Linked DNA regions of Homo sapiens: region 2 is linked to region 1. The links come from fine-mapping of genetic effects on gene expression. Tissue or cell type: whole blood. Region 1 holds a variant in brackets; the other region holds the start of a gene. All regions are shown on one strand. Distances are between the middles of the regions.

The links. PIP is the estimated chance that this variant, and not a neighbour inherited with it, causes the effect.
Region 2: PIKFYVE starts here. The variant in region 1 is fine-mapped to the expression of PIKFYVE in whole blood (GTEx, PIP 0.98).

The regions. Positions count from the first base shown.
Region 1 is chr2:208,178,012-208,180,709 of GRCh38, reverse strand. The region is part of intron 6 of C2orf80 (chromosome 2 open reading frame 80); the gene reads left to right. Among named protein-coding and RNA genes, the nearest start is that of C2orf80, 11 kb to the left of the region's middle. The variant G/T (reference allele first, on the strand shown) is at 1,580.
Region 2 is chr2:208,265,041-208,267,721 of GRCh38, reverse strand. It overlaps PIKFYVE (phosphoinositide kinase, FYVE-type zinc finger containing), which reads right to left and starts at 1,467. Exons shown (of 42, transcript NM_015040.4): 1 at 1,307-1,467. RefSeq lists a silencer at 1,181-1,450 and an enhancer at 1,581-1,630.

The sequences.
Region 1 (2,698 bases):
TTTAGAGATAATTTATTTAGTGTATAAATGTATAATGTTGTATTTTCAGACATCAATTATGAAATAACAGTTTTACATCAAAATGTACAAAACCAGACATAACCATTTCTTACTTGAATAACGTGTGTGAAATGCCTTTCATATGTAAAAGACCATGCAGTAATAACAAATGTATCTTGTGTACGGCTGAGAAGGGGCAGCAATGAGTACCAGGCTTGGGGGCAAAACTTTACTCTGTTGTGGTTTTGTTTTTTTTTTTTGAGACAGAGTCTCACTCTGTCACCCTGGCTGGAGTATAGTGGTGCGATCTCGGCTCACTGCACTTCTGCCTCCTGGGTTCAAGGAATTCTCGTGCGTCAGCCTCCTGAGTAGCTGGGACTACAGGCATGCACCACCACACCCGGCTAATTTTTGTATTTTTTGGTAGAGATGGGGTTTTGCCATGTTGACCAGGCTGGTCTCAAACTCTTGGCCTCAAGTGATCTGCTTGCCTTGGCCTCCTAAAATACTGGAGTACAGGTATGAGCCACCATGCCAACCTCTGCTCTGTTTCTAATAAATGTAATTTTTCACGTACACTTTTTGTAATGTAGATCTGGTAGGTCCACACAGTTCCCTTCTATGATGTACTATATCTTCTAGAACTAGGACAAGATCCACAAGGCTCATTCTCATGACAAATTCCCTAGTTTACTGCTGATACATCTTCCTTTCCCACAACACTACTACATTTTTTAAAGACGGGTCTCACTGCTGGTCTCAAATTCCTGGTAATCCAGTAATCCTCGAAATCCTGGCCTCAGCCTCCTAAGTAGCTGGACTATAGGTGTGAGCTCCACTCTCAGCTCCTCCCATGAAACTACTTTGAAATCATTAACAGTAGAAGCAGCAATGACCTGGGAGTTCAGAGACCTGGGTTTGAGTTCTGACTCCACTACTATGAAACCCTAGATGCGTCCCTTTCCCCTTTCGGGCCTCCATATGACTGATCTTAAAAAAAAAAAAAGGGTGTTCTGAATAATTTTTAAGACCACTTCCATTTTTGCCACTTGTAAATGTATGAACATTAAGTAAACATTTAAATATGAACTGCTATTTAGAGGTGAACTACTGATCCCTTCACCTTTGGATACCTCCAGAAGAGGCAAGAGGAAAGGGAAGGTGAGGTGGCGAGGGCCATGCAGTGGGAGGGGGGAAGGGGGGCACCAACGTCCTCACGCCCAGGTCTTCTGCTCACACTGTGGCTTTCCCTGCCCCCACCTGGATTCAGAAGGGAGGGCAGGGCAGGGGCAAGGCTGTGGCCACAGGAATGCCTGCCTCCCTTATTCTTTTACTGCAGGTCATTGTGCAAGCAGTGGGGTCATGTAGAGTTCAAGAGCCCACCAGGTCCACCTTAGAAGTCAAGTGTTTACATTGAAACCAACTTTCCTATCACTTTAATCCATATGTAACCTGACTGTAGTCCTGAGACTCAAATGCCCTTGATCATTGTGAAAATCAGAACTTTCTCTCTGATCCCTCTAGTTTCAACTCACTTCATTCATTCACTCACTCATTCATTCACTCATCTGTTCATTCA[G/T]TATAATTGTAGGTGCAGGGGATACAGTGGTGAGCAAGTCAGACAAGATAACTTTTTAAAAACTTTTTTGCAGGCCGTTTGCAGTGGTTCATGCCTGTAATCCCAGAACTTTGGGAGGCCAAGGTGGGTGGATCACCTGAGGTCGGGAGTTTGAGACTAGCCTGGCCAACATGGTGAAACCCCAACTCTACTAAAAATACAAAAAATTTGCCAGGTGTGGTGGCGGTCGCCTGTAATCCCAACTACCAGGGAGGCTGAGGCAGGATAATCTCTTGAACCCGGAAGACGGACGTTGCAGTGAGCTGAGATCATGCCACTGCACTCCAGCCTGGACAACAAGAGCAGAAACTCCATCTCAAAAAACAATTAAAAAAAAATTTTAGGGATGGGGGTCTCCCTATGTTCCACAGGCTGGTCTTGAACTCCTGGGCTCAAGCGATCCTCCCACCTTGGCCTCCCCTAATGCTGGGATTACAGGCATGCATCACCACACCCAGCCAAGATTACTTTTCTTATAGATCTTATATCCTATATTGGAGCTTACCTTGTTTGAGATATAAGCCACCCCAGGCCTGACGCTCCTCAGAGATCAAGCTGTTCTTGGTTTTCAAAGAAAGCTCAGCTCTCTGTGTTCCTTGGATAGCCAAGCAAATCATACTGCTTTATTCCTGCTTGTCTTTTTCTGCAGCTTTCTCCCTTCTAGGCTGCCCTTTCTCCTTTTCCCCTACCCCTCAGCACATATACACACAAGCCTGAGCCCCAAACCCTTCTGTTTCAGTCACTGTTTTCTCCCTGTCACCTTCTGGTACCTGGGAGAGGTCTAGAAAGGCATCAGCACATCTGACTAGTTGGTCCCAACTCACATGGCTAAAAGACTAATATGGAAAAACACATCCTAGAGAGGATGGCACTGTGGACCCCTCCAGGTTTGGCTGGGTTATCAGTCAAGAAGGTTTGCAAACATGGGTGTCTGAGTAGCTCAGATAAATCAGGTTCATTTAAAGTTGCTAGAAGGCTGGGCGCGGTAGCTCATGCCTGTAATACCAGCACCTTAGGAGGCAGAGGTGGGTGGATCACCTGAGGTCAGGAGTTTGAGACCAGCCTGGCCAACACGGTGAA
Region 2 (2,681 bases), 87 kb before region 1:
CAGCTTCGCTAACATGGTGAAACCCCGTCTCCCCTAAAAATACAAAAATTAGCCGAGTGTGGTGTCGCGCGCCTGCAATCTAGCTACTCAGGAGGCTGAGGCAGGAGAATCGCCTGAACCCTGGGAGGCGGAGGTTGCAGTCGGAGGAGATCGCGCCACTGCACTCCAACCTGGGGGACAGAGCGAGACTCTGTCTCTCAAAAAAAAAAAAAAAAAAAACTGGCAATGTAATAATTTAGGAAAGCTGAATATTGGAAATGTTAGCTTCTATCAACAAAGATTTCTTGTTCAATTTTTGACCAACACGCTTAAAGGAAAACCAGAGCAGGATCCAGAAAGCAGAAAAAGGGAGAACACAGGAAATTAGCCTTGCTCCACAGAAGAGATTTAACCTACACAATCTTTGTCACAAACACAAAAGAAAGAACATTTTTTGTAAGAAAACTGACAGAGTGGGAGTTTTGGAGTGCCAAAAAAGGGGCTCAAATAAATCAGAAATAAGTACATTATACCAAGCGACTACCTCTATTGTCAACACTGGACATATTTTACAACACAGGATGCACTGCGTCAATAGTAGATAATGAATCATGTATACACATCAGATACACACGAATAACTTGCTTTATACAGAATTCTAGCACTTCTTATATTTCTTGACTGTCTTAGGAATAACCTCTGATTGGGCAGAAAACCCCTAAGTCCTAAAAGTTTCCAACACATTCCATTCTCATCCTTTTGTTGGGAACATTCTAAGCAAAGGGTAAACACTAATTGGGAAATAATGCTCCTCCTCAAGAAACTCCAAAACCTAAGTTGAAATGGAATCGTCTCAAATAGCAGAGGCAAGCATTTAAAAAGACAAACACTTATTTGAACCCCCACGGTTGGTATCGTTTCTGCAGCTCATGAACTTTCTTTTCCAGCCTACGGATGCGCCTCTGACAAACTCAGAACTCATGCACTCAGAGGGAAAAGTAACTGTACTCTTCCCCTCCTAATTAAGTTCAGGCGTAAGGGTCGAGAGAGAGGCAAAGGAACTTCAAATGTTTCCAAGGAAATCTCAAGGGCCCCACCCGGCTTCCGTCCCCACTCGCCAGACAAGGCAGCCGGGGAATAGGGAGGACAAGCTAATTCTAAAGCCAGATTCTCTGCCCTTCCTTGCTCAGCCGGCAGCCAGGCCCTAGCCCCCGACTGCGGAGCCCTGGTTCTCACTTTCACCTCAGCTCTGGCCCTGGAGCTCCCCATACCGGCCTCCTTCCCATGCTGAGCCCCAGCCGGCCAAGCTCCAGGCCCCCTCCCTTACCTGCGCCTCCTGCCCCGGCCGCGCCGGCTGCCCCCCGCCCCAGCCTCCGCTTCAACGGCTCAGCCCCCGGAAGTCGGCCCCCGAGAGCGGCGGTGGGCTCCTCAGGCCGCGGACGGTTGCGGCAGGAAGCGAAGCTGCTTACATGGTTGATGCGGCTTCTCGCTTCCCCCCCCCAAGACTCCGCCCTCTGTTTTCCTGTCCCCCAGTCCGAAATCTTTCCCGGGGGCCGGCTCCTCCCAGCCCGGCCGACGCTCGGATCAGATGCTCAGGCAGAAGGAGTCCAGCCCAGATCGAGTCGTCCTGATCTTTTGGCCGAGATTAGGCCGCTTCAGCCTTCCTGGAAGAAGCCAGGGGGACTGCGCGCGTGAGCGTCACGCATGCGGGGTCAACGGATGGGTGCTTGGTGCTCTGGGCACTGCAGGGGTGCTGGCTGGACTGCGGTTACCGTATGTGTTCGATACTGTGGGCACTCATAATATGTTATTGCTTTGTTGTAGACAGTTCACTCGTGTAGCACTGAACCGGAGTTAGCGATGACTCTGTTTCCAGACTTGCATGACTCCACCAATAACCAGCCATATGATCTTAAGCAAATTGCTCATTTATTTAGGCCTTAGACCTCTGGTGTGTAAAGTCGGATTAATAAAAGGACTCACTTCTTAATACTTTTTTGAGATTAAGTAAATGCACTTAAAGCGAATGGCACAGTTCCCTGACCCAGAGTAAGTGATGTCGGCTTTATAGTTAATTTTTTCATTTAGGTGTTGTGTTGCAAATGCTGATGCAAATAAAGTTACCAAGCCCAAGCCCTATCTTGTTCAGCTTGGCTAGAGTTATTCGTCATTTCTGTCCTGCTGAGAGCGCAGTGCAGTTAACTGCAGAAAACATGCTCGCCGCAGTTGTGGGGCTTGGTAGGGGAGGATGGAAAGCAGACGAAACCTAAAGGGAAATGCAGTTTTAAATTCTGTGAGTCCTTTTCCTCAAGAGTTTTGTCAAATCCCAGCCCAGTTTTCCTGGAGTTGGAAAGCACCATCGAAACCTGCAGGTTGAGTCCAGTGCAAATCCCAGTCACCATCCTCAGCTGGGCCCTTCAGCAATCTTTCTGGGAGTCTGTAGTCAGCTTCTCCCATTCCTTATTACTGCTGCGTCAGACCACCACCACGACCCCCACATTACCTTGACCATCATTCTCATCAGAGAATCATATTTTATACCCACGTGAAAAATCCCAAGGTATCTGGGCGTGACCCTTAACAAGCTAATTCCCCACACACCACAACATTTACCTACATCCACATCTGCCCTGGTCTGCCTTTCTCCCTCATCTCTCTGAGGAAGGGGCCTCTTCTTCCCCAGCTCAATCCTTTTGGCCCCC